3 separate regions of the Homo sapiens genome follow, and all the other regions are linked to region 1. Evidence: fine-mapped expression QTL. A gene starts in region 1. Each other region holds a variant in brackets. All regions are shown on one strand. Distances are from middle to middle.

Evidence for each region. PIP is the estimated chance that this variant, and not a neighbour inherited with it, causes the effect.
Region 2: its variant is the best candidate, but not a certain one, in a credible set for the expression of ASPH in whole blood (GTEx, PIP 0.70).
Region 3: its variant is the best candidate, but not a certain one, in a credible set for the expression of ASPH in whole blood (INTERVAL, PIP 0.69).

What each region holds. Positions count from the first base shown.
Region 1 is chr8:61,711,645-61,716,877 of GRCh38, forward strand. ASPH (aspartate beta-hydroxylase) reads right to left here and starts at 2,948. Exons shown (of 25, transcript NM_004318.4): 1 at 2,625-2,948. The coding sequence starts at 2,727. It overlaps MIR4470 (microRNA 4470), which reads left to right and starts at 3,144; the gene lies at 3,144-3,215. RefSeq lists silencers at 2,318-2,747, 2,788-3,157.
Region 2 is chr8:61,761,119-61,766,351 of GRCh38, forward strand. No RefSeq gene overlaps it. Among named protein-coding and RNA genes, the nearest start is that of LINC02842, 21 kb to the right of the region's middle. The variant A/G (reference allele first, on the strand shown) is at 3,042.
Region 3 is chr8:61,472,372-61,477,604 of GRCh38, forward strand. The region is part of intron 5 of CLVS1 (clavesin 1); the gene reads left to right. Among named protein-coding and RNA genes, the nearest start is that of CLVS1, 190 kb to the left of the region's middle. The variant A/G (reference allele first, on the strand shown) is at 2,672.

The DNA.
Region 1 (5,233 bases):
TTTGGCCAGGAAAAAAAAAAGAAATCACCTTTTCCCTAAAATGCATGTTTCAAATGACTGGGTTCTTTTTTCCCCATACGTTTACACAACAACTTAAGAAATAATAATGTTTAATGTGACCAATGCCGTCATTTTCTGACTCTCAATGTAAGACATATCAAAAAACGTACTATTTGAACACATATACTTCTTCTCAAACTAAAATTTCAAATAGTGTTTCAAATAGAATTTTTGTCAAGGGAAATGTAATTGGTGATAGGACAAAAGCATAGTTTTCTCCAATAATTAAATGTAGTACTCATGGAGACAGCCAGAAGAAAACTTGATAATCTAGTTCAACTCCAATTACATACTAGAGAACCTAAAATTCAAGCATGGCAAAATGAATAACAAAACCTGGGTTCTTAGTCTCGGTTCTTCCAGTAATTAGTTGAGTTTCCATGAACTAAACAACCTTCAATGAACTCGGCAACTTCTCTGGGCATTAATTTCCTCATCTGTATGATTTGAGCAGGAAACTAAATGGGTCTCACAGTATGACACTGCTAAAAAGTCTTTGATTTTCCCAGTAGAAGGAAATGGTTCGCACAACGTCCGTACTTTAATGACCAGGTAAACAGCATTAAAAGAAAAGCCGGCTTTATCTTTCGAGTACAGCCTACTATACACGACACTGTACTTTAACTGTTTAGGGTGATGGAAGGAAATGGTTTCCATACCCAGTGCCTTCTATCTGGCACACAGTAAGAACTCAGTATCTACTGGAGAAAAAAAAGAAAAGGTTGCGGATATGCGGATAAAGAATACTCATTACGTCACATGCAGGGTTCCAATATCAACTTTTGTTTTCGTATCACGGGCATTCCTCCCTTTTACATATTCTTTTACATACTATGTCTGTTTCATGACTATTAGAGAATCAACGTGTAAAATGCTTAAAAGGCTGTAGATCCTCAAATATGGGCAGAGTTTGTTCTAAAATGCCTGACTATGAAAGTCAGGAGAAGTTAATTTAAGTTACTGCATTTTCTAAACCTATCTCTTGCCTGTTAAAATGCTTCAAATAGTTATGGGGTAGGTCTAGAAACGTGAGACACATTTCCCAGTATTAGTTCTCACCAATAAGAGGCCATATAAAGTGACTTCCCTCAGATGCAATCAGCCCTCTCCTCATAAACACAAAAATGAAATGGAACGAAGACATGCTTCTCTGGCAAATAGCTACAGAAACCTTTTGAAAACAACTAACATTAAAGTTGTTCATCAGCTTTCTCTGCTTAGTGCCCTTAGAGGCACAATGAGAAGAACCCATTCTCATTTAGGGATGTTAAAAAAGAGTAGCCTCAGTCGGCTGAGGCAATTAATCTATCCCTCTGCAGGTTTAAGTAAGTGACATTTAAGAACAAGTGAAAAAGGAACACAAACTTTCACTTATGTCAAAGGTGAATTAATATGCTTGCATTGAACTTCAAACTGTGTCTACATCTTTACTTTTAGAATACAAATATTAGTCCTTAGAATGTAAATTTGTGCAATGGATTTAATGCACTACTTTCCCCATTTAAATCCATTCATTCATTCACTACTCAAATATTTATTGAGCACCTATTATGGGAAAGGAACATTCTAGGAGCTGGGGATACAGAGAGAATGAGCCAAAGACAACACACATGAAAGTAATAAGACAAGTTCAGATAGTGACAAGTGCTATAAAGAAAATACTTCTTTGACTATAGCTGATTCATTTTCTTGGTATATTATGAATGCATGATCTGAAGATCTCAGAAAACAAAGAGTCTAAATCACTTCAAGTGAAGTTTACAGCTCACATTCCATACACATGTGTATTGCAGTTTCAATATCCCAAATATGAGTCAAAGGAAGTATAAAAGAAACCAAGAATCACTGAAATATGAGACGAAACAGATTTAAAAATCTGTTCTCTCTGCTGGATATGCACACGGACGAGGAGAAAGGTGAATATCCAATCGATTTTTATTTTAAGTAAAAGTGGTAAAAATACAGACGCTCGTTCAGTATTTCATGACATTCTATTTTAAAGGCAACTGCAACGCATATTAAGAAAGCTACATACAAGCAAAAATATTTAAAATAATTTCTGAGAGCATTCAAATCACTCCCAACTTCTTCCCTCCCCCTGCCCCCCGGCGCCCCCATTTTCACCTCCTTTGAGTTGCTCTGAAACGCTGCTGGTTAGGCAGGAACTCACTTTCCCTGACTTTGGCTCATTTTCAACTCCCCAAAACACGCAAGGCAAACGATAAATTGTTCTCTTACTCCCATGTTCAATTCCACGGAAAGCCAAGAAACAGTCGTTCAGCAACCTCTGTCTCGGCTGCGCCCTGCAGGTGAAGGAACCGCTGGGAAGGGGCTCCCCGAGACTAGCATCCCGAGGGCTCGGACCCCGGTCCGCCTGGCCCCTCGCCCGCCCGCCAGGCCCGCCGAATGCGGCCTCCGCCCCGCGCGCCTAAAGGAGGAGCGTCGCGGGGGATGGAGGCGGCGCGCGGTGGGACCTGGGGAGATGCACCCGCAGCGTCCGCCGCGCCAGCCGGCTCCCTACCCCGAGGCGAGGCCCCAGATCCCCGCCCCGCAGGGCCTCTGACCTCTCCGGGCCCCGGGGCTGCTGCTGCCCGCACTCGTGCTACCGCTGCCGGAGCCGCTGCTGCTGCTGTTGCCGCTGCTCTTGGCATTCTTACGCTGGGCCATTGCACGGTCCGCGGGGGCTGGTGAGGGCTGGCGGACCTCCTTCAGTGCGCGGGGGTACACACGCGACGCGGGAACCGCTGGCGGCGGCGGGCCGCTGGAGCGGGTTCGGGCCGCTGCTCCTGCAGCAGACCCTGTGCCTCAGCACCGCCTGCAGCACCTGGGAAGACTTCACCCGCCTGCCGGCTGCGCGCGCCCGGCCTCGCGTGTACGAACCTGTGACTCCCTCCCGGGGCGAGAGCGCGCGGCTCGCCGCCCGACGGCCACGCCCCTTCCCGGCCTCGCCCCGCCCCCGGAAGGCTGAGTGACGGCGCCTGGGACCCAATCGCAAGGGCCCTTACGAGGCGGCGGTACCCTGCCGCGCTCCCCGCCCCTGCTCACTTAGGGCTGTTCGGGCGCTACGCAGCTGCCTGTGAGCGCGAGCCTCTTTCGGCTTTCCAGTTTGTCTCGGTCCTTTGGAACGTGGCAAACGTGGAAGCCGAGAGGGCTCTCGCGAGCGTTGGCAGACCCCGCTCCATAGGGATGGGACAGGGCGCGGTGCGGAATAGGTGGACACGTGGGCCGCCCGTGGGCGGAGTGCGCCGCTTCTAGGCCTTTCACTGTGGATTTTGTCCCCTTTCCGTATACAAGGAAAGGAAGGAGTGCAGTCTCGCTTCTTGCGAAAGAGATCCCTATTTCTTGTCCTGATTAATACTAAGACATTTCTGGAATGGTGATATTAGGACTAGTTCAATGCTTAAACCGTAGTAGTTCATCCATTTGGTGCTGAAGCAGGAATTTAGTTCGTTTGTGCCATCAGTATTTTCAGATACTCTTAGTTAAGGAATGAAAATGCAAATGTGACACAAAAAGTTCATTTTCTTACCCTGGATGGCACCCTCTGTCTGAAATCCCTGGCTGCTTTGCTAACGCCTGGGCCTGTGCTGCCTGAGAATTCCCAACAGAGTATTAAAATGTCTTGGCACGTGGTTGAACCAGACAAGGACTTGAGATCAGCGACGTCTTTATCATCTTTGTGTCACCATTGCTAACACCATGCCCAATGTGTAACAGGCAAGCAAGAAATGCTTAGTGATTTGATACATTTCTGTCAATTGCTGAACCCACAGCTCTTGATCATGTTTCGTAGCAACCCCTGGGAGTGTCTCAGGAGGGCTCAGGGACCAGAGAGAGCAGTTGCATTGTGGCATCTGGTTTCATTCCTCTTTTCCAGCCCCACAAACCCACCCACCCGCGCCTTCAGAAGCACTCCCGCCTCCCCCCGGCCCCATGCCTTTTCACCTGTGGATGGTTGGATGCTGCTTGACCCTGCCCTGATGATGCACAGAAACCCCCCAAAGGTCATGTTGCAGAATAAAGAGAATGCCTTTCTTTACCTTTTGTCAAATAGTGTTAGGCTATTATCAAGAGACGGTGGGAGGGGAGAGTTCACAGAGTTTTTATTGAAGTAGCTCTCTCAGCTTTTATCTTGTGGCATCTCCTTCTGCATCCATATATCCTTTCTCCCATTCAGGGCCCCCTTACAACCCTCTATTATATTATCTCAATGAAGGAGGTGGAGAACTGGATTAAGAAATAAATCTGAGTGATGGTGCTTCATATAAAATAAAAATGAGAGCTAAATTTCAAAACACAATGCTCTAGCCACCCCCCACCCCCCACACCAAAGATATTTTTACCCTTAAATTCTCACAAAACCCTGTAGTCATATCAATTTTTTAAAGAAATTAGATACTGGAAGCTCAGAGAGATAAAACAAAGTAGGGTCACTGTATTAGTCCGTTTTCACACTGCAGATAAAGACATATCCCAGACTGGAAAGAAAAAGGGGTTTAATTGGAGTTACAGTTCCACATGGCTGGGGAGGCCTCAGAATCATGGCAGGAGGTGAAAGGCACTTCTTACATGGAGGTGGCAAGAGAAAATGAGGAAGAAGTAAAAGCAGAAACCCCCAATAAACCCATTAGGTTTCATGAGAATTAATTCACTATCACGAGAATAGCACAGGAAAGACCGGCCCCCATGATTCAATTACCTCCCTCTGGGTTCTTCCCAAAACACATGGGAATTCTGAGAGATACAATTTGATGTTGAGATTTGAATGGGATCACAGCCAAACTATATCATTCTGCCCCAGTCCCTCCAAATTTCATGCCCTCACATTTCAGAACCAATCATGTTTTCCCAACAGTCCCCCAAAGCCTTAACTCATTTCAGCATTAACCCAAAAGTCCACAGTCCAAAGTCTCATCTGAGACAAGGCAAGTCCCTTCTACCTAAGAGCCTGTAAAATCAAAAGTAAGCTAGTTACTTCTTAGATACAATGAGGGTACAGGTATTGGGTAAATACAGCCATTTCAAATGGGAGAAATTGGCCAAAACAGCGGGGTTACAGGGCCCATGCAAGTCTGAATTCGAGTGGGGCAGTCAAATTTTAAAGCTCCAGAATTATCTCCTTTGACTCCAGGTCTCATATCCAGGTCACTCTGATGCAAGAGGTGGGTTCCCA
Region 2 (5,233 bases), 49 kb after region 1:
CTCTCCCTTTTTCTTTCTGCTGACATCTGTTTCAAATCTTCATCACTCCTAACTATAGATTTCTCTTTAAGATATTGCTTCAATGTGGCTTTCCTATTCTCGGAACAAATAGAATGGAACTCACTGCATTCTTTTCCAGCTCTTTTGGGTGATGTAGGACAAGGCTGCAGGAACTCAGCTTTTCCAGAAGTAGAGCATGGAGCCATATTAGCTGGAGGGTTGCTGAATGGTTCCAGGTTCAAACATCAGCATAGCAAAGTCATTATGAGCACAAACTCCTGTGACTTACTCAGCTGTGTGACTCAGGGCAAGCAACATAATATTGCTGTAGCTTGGTTCATTCTTTTTTACAGTGGTAGATACAATAAAGTAATACGCATCTCACAGGGTCGAGTGGGTGCTAAAAGAGTTAGTAGATATCAGGCACTCCAGAGGTTGCTTTATACAGCAGGCACTCAACCTTTGTTTATTACTATCATGTTGCTCCACCAGAGAGTCACAGATTTCATCTCTGGGGTCACTTGATCCCTTTGCTGTCTGCAACTTTTGTAGCTTGGGAGGAGCTTCCTTGACAAGATAAGGAATTTATTTATTCCTCCAGCCAGTGGGATTTCCGACTGTCCGGGGAGGTGGTTTGGAACTAAGACTTAACATGAAGAGAAAATACTGATATATTCCATGGAGACGATCTATTTTCCATTTCAACTTGGAAGACTAACACTTGACTGTCTCACCAGTGGAGGCAGCAAGAGGGTGCATAATACAAAGTTTCTGTAAGCCTTGTAATCTCTGACCACTTGGTACAATGAGAAGGACTGTAATATATTGGATGCTACCAGTTTTTACTTTATGGGGAAAGTTTTTCTTCTATTTTTACAGAATAGTCATGACTTTTACACTTTGCACCTTCAGAAATCTCTAAGTCAGAAAATAAGCATTCTCTGCATCCTGTTCTTTTCTTGACTTTACACTATTACTGAATTTTCATTTCAATAGTTTAATAGTAGCAGCTAACATTGACCCTTTATCATGTGCCAGGGACTAAGTGTTACACAGTTAAGTTCTCATTTAATGTCCTAGATAGTTTCTTGGAAACTTTGGCTATAAGCAACATGACATATAATGAAACCAATTTTCCCACAGGCTAATTGATATAAACAAGAGTTAAGTTTCTATAACATCACGAAGACCTCACCAATCTTCAAAATAAAGACCCCCTAAACACTTCTAATACTAAAGCTAAAATAAATGTGAGCTATACATACATTTAAGAAACGTTAATAAAAACAAGGAAGATAATTACCCAATTATTGCAGTTCAGGGTCACGGGTGGCCAGAGCCTATTCTGACAGCTCAGAGTGCAAAGAGGGACCTAACCCTGGCCAGGAGGCCATCCTATTGCAGGGCCCAGTCATATAACAAAACCACGTTGAACAAATGGCACTGTTCCAAGACCTGCTGCATATTGAATTTCTCATTCAACCCTCCCAATGAGCCTGAAGGAGGCCATATAGCATAGCAATTCACTGTGACATCTCCAGAGTTTACCAGGGGCCAAGTCATGGCTTGCCCACTTACTTGTCTCCTGATGGGAAATTTATTTAGCCTCTATGTTTCTCTGTTTTTGTTTCCTCATCTAGCAAAAGGGCTTGAGTGTATTTTTTCATTGGGCTATTGTAAAGGATTAAATAAAATATTGCAAACAGTGTTTGAAACTGTCAATACATATGTTATGATGAAAACAGTGTCAGAAATAGGTCAACAAATACATGACATAATTAGGCAGATGAAAGAACTGAGACTAAGTATAGGTGATTCAGTGGCTCCAGGCACACAGCTAGTAAACTAAGGAGCTGGGATTTGAAAACGGCTGTACACCGCCAAAGCCCATACTTGTGACCTCTATATCATTGTATGTTATGAAAACCAAAACTAATGAAGTTTTCATTCATGTGCTAAATAATACTGTGATCAGGCAAAAACAACGTAGCTACTTACTCCTGGAAATAAGGCTCCTGAAAGACAAGACAGTGAACCGATTCAAACTCCTTATTCATCAATAGCCTTTAAGGACCCTCTCCTCACTACAGCTACCCATTCAAAAATATTATGACATACATTTCCCAATCCCAACTAGAGTCTTGCTTTGCAGAAAATCATCCAACTCAGAGTTGCCCTCCAAATGCTATTAATATTCTCCCCTGACTTCTCCCTTCTGATTCACTACTAAAGCTGTCAAAGAAGTCTTTTCCCTTACTGCAGCAAGCCTAACCAACTTAGCTTTGTTTGAGCAGCAGATTTTTCTGGTGATATTTTGGGAAGTCAGTACTCAACAATACTTAAACTACCACTGAGATTCACTAAATTCCCCCTTGCTGCTGAGGCTCAAGACTCCTCACTCAGGAGAGGGTGCTACCTTGGGGCCTCTGAGCCTTCCACTCAGAAATCTCTCCAACCGTAAGATAGGTAGGGCCCTGATTATGTCTGATCTCCTGATTTCTTATTTGCTCTTGCTTGAGTTGATTTTCAAATAAATTCATTTTTTCTCCTAGGAATGAGGAATCATTTTAAGTATCCTTCCTTTAGATAATTAAATTTGAAAATTATTATTCATGGTGAAAACCTGCCTAAATACCAACACTTCCTCCCTGTTTCCTGCTGTCCACACTCCTCCCTTTCTCCTGTGAGTCTGCAGGAGGAAGTCTAGAGAGAGGGACCACACGGGCTCTCGAAGTCCGTCTTTCAGACCACTCCAAGACTGACGAGTTCAGTCTCATGAGACTGATAATTTTTTGACAAACTTTGGCTTGGGATACTGTTCAAAAACTTGTAAGAAATTTCCATTGTCTTGTCTTTGCATCCCTGAGAAATATTTTATTTAGTTTCTTCTGCCCACTGTTGGGGGTTTCCTTGGGCCTCTTATCAGTGATGACTGCTCTGTGGCCATATGCTAGAGATAAGAAGTGGTACAAGACCCATTCTTACTGTCTGCTGTAGTTCTCATGGGCTCTACTCAATGTGTTTGGCCCTCTGGGACAAAC[A/G]CCTGCTCCCTTAAAGCTTTCATTTAAGTGCATGTCTCTGTCATGACTCCACCATGGTCAAACTGAAATTGCAATGATCACTTTGAGAAAATTGTAACATAAACATGATTGTCTATTAGAGATACACATTAGAACAAAAAAGAAAAGAAACCTTCAGGAGGTGATTCTGCCTTGTCTAAGAGAGAGATGACCTTGAAATAGGAGACCCCTTCTTTTCTTCTTGTACTGTGCACATGTGTGACTGTTTTTATGTATGTGAATATGTATGTGCATGTGCATGTGTGTGTAAGAGTGTATGTGTGCAAGTATGTATGAGTGTGAGTACATGTGGATGTGTACATGAGAGAGAAATGGTTTTTCTTGTGTCTAGGCTTTTCCTTTCCTTGCAGAAAGAAGGGTAAGTAGCCTTTTTACAGAGATGATTTTATATTAGAAGCCAGTTCCCTCTCATTTCTTCTTTTCTTTCCTTCCGTTTTTAACTTCTCTCAGAAAACTTTGGAGATTGATAGATTATAAATTATTGATATATCTCATAGAGGTTTACTTCTACTAAGAAAAGAACTATTTTACCAAATATGAGTAATTAAATTTTAGCTTACAAAGGCTCTACATGTTTTTCTCTGATCTTATTACTATGTAAAAAACGTTCACCTAGTATTTAGTTAAGACAAGATTTGAATATAATTTCTCATGATTAAAATTTGAAAATATTCTATGTTAGTTCTATGGCCCCAATAATGTGTTATTATATCTGCAACTTATATAAAGTTAAGAAATATAAAATTGTATTTAGTCCAATAAAATTGTAAATGTGAGTGTCTTTTAGATATTTAATATTGTGAATACTTATTTAACAGATCATAAGGGCTTAATGTGTTGGTAAACTTTGTAATTTCTGGATCTTTGGTTAGCTTTAAGACCTTAGACTAATATAAAATTAAGCTAATTAATAAAAGGTATATGTATACCACAACTATTTCTAAATAAAAATAAAATGTTTAAATATCATTCAAGAAACATTATTTTGGGTTTTACTCATTTCCAATCTTTACAAAATACTACAGACTAATAGGGCATTTGAATGCCTTTGAATTATATATATATCTGAATGTGTTTATCTCAAGTTTATTAAAATGCAGTATAAAATGTGTACTCATGGAAAAAATCTAAGTAGATATTGCTTCTAGTTTCCTTGTGGCCAGGAAAACAAAAGTTGATTAGTTAAAGGTGGTAATTAATATAAATGTTTGAGATGACACTAAGTACTATAATTACAGAGTAAGACAAATGAGTATACAAGATGATAATATATTTTGTCTGTTTTCTTCTTAAAGGAATTATTATAATTTATTAAAATGGAAAATCCCATTAGGCAAATACTATATATTTTAAAATTTAGCATGCTGACAGTTAACTGCATTTTAGAGCTAAACTTAATAATTTTATTATCTGTTTGCTTAGTTATATATTCATGTATGTTTAAATGCATAAATACAAGAATATCTTTATATTACTTTTAAAAGTGAATAAATAATGAATAAGATAATGAAAGACAAAATTGAGGACACTCTGTGAATATAAGAGACCTAAAGAAAATGATGTTACGGGTTTCTAATACCAAAGATGACGTAATAATCTCCTAATGGCCTCCCCTCCTAATGCCCCCACATTGGGGGTTAAGATTTCAGCATATACATTTTTGTCTAATACAAACATTCAGTCTGTAACAACCTCTAAGGCATTTCATCTGTCATTCATAGACGGCTCTGCTGCAGTGTCTTTGGGCATGGAAAGGCCGTTGAAGTTGTTTATTCTCATCTCCCTGGCACTTCATTGTTAGAAAATTAGAACTTGGAAGCTCAGAGAGGTGACGTGATTAGCCTAAGGTCACAAAGCTATTTCATAAGAAGGATAGGGCTAAAACTGTTTAGTCACTTTATACTCTTACCACTGAGTTCCTTTGACATTGGAGGGGAGAAAATTTTACTCATAAAACTCAGTCTTGGTGAACATTGAAAATAATACTTTTAGAGGGAAAGGGCCTTTAAATCAGGCTTATTACACTGTTTGTGGTCAAGTAATATAGGAAGGAAGTAGGTTTTTTTAGATGTCTGAAAATTTAGTGGTGATCAGCTATAATATAGATACATTGAGATTTTACTTTCTAACATTCTACCTTCATGTCTTCAACT
Region 3 (5,233 bases), 240 kb before region 1:
GGGGAGGAGAAGGAGGGAAACAAAAAAGAGAGAGGAAGGAAACAACAAAAGAAGGAGAGAAGAAAGGAAAAATCGTGTAACAGTAAATGCTGTGAGGAACACTCTATTTTGTAGAGTGATGAGGAAGATATCATCAACCATCCATAAAGGAATAAGACATGGTCTTTGTAATCAATGTTTCATTAGAATTTGAAATTGTCTCTAAGGTTATCAGTAACCAACTCCTTAGTCTCATTACTTCTCCCAGTTTTTGAATTTCCATTAACAATTAACATTTAAAATAATTTTTAAAAATTTTATTCATTCATTCAATAATCATTGAGTATACATTATACACAAGTAGGATAGAGGGCAATTAAGAGAACAGAATCAGTAATCAGATTTTATGCGTTCAAATTAATAGCTGTGTGACCTGAGTAGCTACCTCTCTGTGGCCTACTTTTCCTCTCTAGAAAGGAGATAATAATAGATCTACCTTATTATTGTGCTGTGAGGATTAAAGGAAGTCAGTGCAGGTGTTATCTGCTGAAGACAGAGTGGTTAACCTGGCGGACACTGCCCCTGCAGTGTCTCTGAGTCTGTGGTCTATGAAGGGGGACAGACTTTAAACACATTACCCATACAAACAGCTGTTTCATGGTCACCATAAGTGCTTTGAAAAGTTAAAGTGTACCATGAGGATACAGGTGTGTAACGAGGAGGATCCTAACCTAGTCTTGGGTGGAATTCTGGAAGCACTTTCCTGAGGAAGTCACATATAAGCTGAAAACTGGAATATGAGAAAAGTACCCCAAGCAAAAAGGGAGGCATGGGGGTGGGATTCAGAGCAAACACCCTGCATTTGGAAGGACCAGTGTCAGGAACTACTGTGTTTTACTGATTAATTATAAGATGCATTTTCCATCACATTAAAAATCCCTGAAATGAAGACATGTCCTACAATTGATGACATCTGAAATTCACGGAATTTAAAAAAAAAAAAAAAAAAAAAAAGACCAGAAACATTGGAGAGCAGAAAGCGAGGGGGAAAATGACGGGGGTGATGCACAGGGGCCCACCGTGCAGAGCTGCATAGGGCAGATATGAATATCGGACTTTGTCCTATAAGCAATGGACAGTTTCAGAAAAGTTTTTGCAAATGAGTGCAATGAATAGATAAGTTTATTAAAATTTTCACTCTGTTGTGAGGAGAACAAATTGGAGGTGGAGAGAGTAGTAAAAGAAGGCTGTATGAGACTACAGTAATGGTGCATGTAGGAGATCATTGTAGCCTGGATTGGAGTGCTGAGCGTGGAGGTACAGAGAAGAAGATGACTCAAAAATGTTTAGTGAATAGAATAAACAAGATCTGATGATCAAGTGGATATTGGGATGAAGGTAAGATGCTTCAGGAATGACCAGAGGTCTTTTGCATATGTAAAAGATGCAATGCTGCTGAATGGAAAGCAGACCCTTTTCCCAAGATAAGGAACTCTGGAAGCAGTGCTGACTGGGGAGATGATTGTGAATTCAGTGTTGGACATGATTAATGAGAGGGCTTGTGTGGTATCTGGTTAGAGTAGTCATGTAGGCTGTTTAGAACATGTTTCTCCTGTTCTAAAGCTCAGGAGAAAATTCTGGAGTGGGAAAAATCAGGAACTCAAAGGCATAAAGAGGCAAATGCAAGCCATGGGAATGGAGGAGAACTCTCAGAGAGAGCTTGTAGAAAGAAAAGAAGAATGAGTGCCTAGGTTTGAGCTGAGAGGAAGTTCAGTATTTGAATGTCATACAGCGCAAGACACCATTCTCCAACATGGAGAATGGTAGGAGGTAAACTAGATGTGGTGTTGCAGAAGCCAAAGGAACAGAAAGGATTTCAGGAAGGGTGGAGTCATCAACTCTATTTACTGCTTCTGAGAAGCCAAGTAAGGTGAAGATTTAAAGGTATCCATTGGACATAATGACTTGAAAGTCATAGGAAGCCTTCACAAGAGCTGTGGTGGAGTCACATGGGTGGTTATGAAGATGCAGCGGGCTCAGAAGTAGGTAGGATGTGAGCAGAGGGAGAGATGGGGAAGATATTTGTATCTGGAGAGGCATGTAAAGATCCAGAAGGCTTTTTTGTTGTTTTTCTATTTTCTTCTATTTTCTGACTTTGTCTTCCTCTTCATCTTCTTCTTCTTTTGTTGAAAATGGGAACACTAGGATATCTCAATGCTAATAGCAAAGATCCAGTAAAGAGGGAGAATTGGAAGGTGTAGGAGAGGGAACAATTGATAACACCAAGCAGGTGAGATTGGTTAGGACCCCGAGCCTGAGTGGAGGAAGTTGTTGCTTTTCTAAGAGCAAGAAGCTCTCTTTACAGTAATCAGGCACCTGTGCATGTGGCACCCCAAAGCTGAGAAGTTCCCGAGGACTCTATTTTCCCAGTGAAGCAGGGCAAGTCTTTTTTTTTATATATATACTTTAAGTTTTATTGTACATATGCACAACGTGCAGGTTTGTTACATATGTATACATGTGCCATGTTGGTGTGCTGCACCCGTTAACTCGTCATTTAGCATTAGGTATATCTCCTAATGCTATCCCTCCCCACTGCCCTCACCCCACAACAGGCCCCAGTGTGTGATGTTCCCCTTCCTGTGTCCATGTGTTCTCATTGTTCAATTCCCACCTATGAGTGAGAACATGC[A/G]GGGTTTGGTTTTTTGTCCTTGTGATACTTTGCTGAGAATGATGGTTTCCAGCTTCATCCATGTCCCTACAAAGGACATGAACTCATCATTTTTTATGGCTGCATAGTATTCCATGGTGTATATGTGCCACATTTTCTTAATCCAGTCTATCATTGCTGGACATTTGGGTTGGTTCCAAGTCTTTGCTATTGTGAATAGTGCCGCAATAAACATGCGTGTGCATGTGTCTTTATAGCAGCATGATTTATATACTTTGGGTATATACCCAGTAATGGGATGGCTGGGTCAAATGGTATTTCTAGTTCTAGATCCCTGAGGAATCGCCACACCAGCTTCCACAATGGTTGAACTAGTTTAGAGTCCCACCAACAGTGTAAAAGTCTTCCTATTTCTCCACACCCTCTCCAGCACCTGTTGTTTCCTGACTTTTTAATGATCGCCATTCTAACTGGTGTGAGATGGTATCTCATTGTGGTTTTGATTTACATTTCTCTGACAGTCAGTGATGATGAGCATTTTTTCATGTGTTTTTTGGCTGCATAAATGTCTTCTTTTGAGAAGTGTCTGTTCATATCCTTTGTCCACTTTTTGATGGGGTTGTTTGTTTTTTTCTTGTAAATTTGTTTGAGTTCATTGTAGATTCTGGATATTAGCCCTTTGTCAGATGAGTAGGTTGCAAAACTTTTCTCCCATTCTGTAGGTTGCCTGTTCACTCTGATGGTAGTTTCTTTTGCTGTGCAGAAGCTCTTTAGTTTAATTAGATACCATTTGTCAATTTTGTCTTTTGTTGCCATTGCTTTTGGTGTTTTAGTCAAGAAGTCCTTGCCCATGTGTATGTCCTGAATAGTATTGCCTAGGTTTTCTTCTAGGGTTTTTATGGTTTTAGGTCTACCATTTAAGTCTTTAATCCATCTTGAATTAATTTTTGTATAAGGTGTAAGGAAGGGATCCAGTTTCAGCTTTCTACATATGGCTAGCCAGTTTTCCCAGCACCATTTATTAAATAGGGAATCTTTTCCCCATTGCTTGTTTTTCTCAGGTTTGTCAAAGATCAGATAGTTGTAGATATGTGACATTATTTCTGAGGGCTCTGTTCTGTTCCATTGATCTATATCTCTGTTTTGGTACCAGGACCATGCTGATTTGGTTACTGTAGCCTTGTAGCATAGTTTGAAGTCAGGTAGCGTGATGCCTCCAACTTTGTTCTTTTGGCTTAGGATTGACTTGGCAATGTGGGCTCTTTTTGGGTTCCATATGAACTTTAAAGTAGTTTTTTCCAATTCTGTGAAGAAAGTCATTGGTAGCTTGATGGGGATGGCGTTGAATCTGTAAATTACCTTGGGCAGTATGGCCATTTTCATGATATTGATTCTTCCTACCCATGAGCATGGAATGTTCTTCCATTTGTTTGTATCCTCTTTTATTTCATTGAGCAGTGGTTTGTAGTTCTCCTTGAATAAGTCCTTCACATCCCTTGTAAGTTGGATTCCTAGGTATTTTATTCTCTTTGAAGCAATTGTGAATGGGAGTTCACTCATGATTTGGCTCTCTGTTTGTCTATTATTGGTATATAAGAATGCTTGTGATTTTTGCACATTGACTTTGTATCCTGAGACTTTGCTGAAGTTGCTTATCAACTTAAGGAGATTTTGGGCTGAGACGATGGGGTTTTCTAGATATACAATCATGTCATCTTCAAACAGGGACAATTTGACTTCTTCTTTTCCTAATTGAATACCCTTTATTTTCTTCTCCTGCCTGATTGCCCTGGCCAGAACCTCCAACACTATGTTGAATAGGAGTGGTGGGAGACGGCATCCCTGTCTTGTGCCAGTTTTCAAAGGGAATGCTTCCAGTTTTTGTCCATTGAGTATGATATTGGCTGTGGGTGTGTCATAGATAGCTCTTATTATTTTGAGATACATCCCATCAATACCTAATTTATTGAGAGTTTCTAGCATGAAGGTTGTTGAATTTTATCAAAGGCCTTTTCTGCATCTATTGAGATAATCATGTGGTTTTTGTCTTTGGTTCTGTTTATATGATGGATTACGTTTATTGATTTTTGTATGTTGAACCAGCCTTGCATCCCACGGATGAAGCACACTTGATCATGGTGGATAAGCTTTTTGATGTGCTGCTGGATTCGGTTTTCCAGTATTTTATTGAGGACTTTTGCAACGATGTTCATCAAGGATATTGGTCTAAAATTCTCTTTTTTTTTGTTGTGTCTCTGCCAGGCTTTGGTATCAGGATGATGTTGGCTTCATAAAATGAGTTAGGGAGGATTCCTTCTTTTCCTATTGATTGGAATAGTTTCAGAAGGAATGGTACCAGCTCCTCCTTGTACCTCTGGTAGAATTGACCTGTGAATCCATCTGGTCCTGGACTTCTTTTGGTTGCTATGCTATTAATTATTGCCTCAATTCAGAGCCTGTTATTGGTCTATACAGAGATTCAACTTCTTCCTGGTTTAGTCTTGGGAGGGTGTATGTGTCCAGAAATTTATCCATTTCTTCTAGATTTTCTAGTTTATTTGCATAGAGGTGTTTATAGTATTC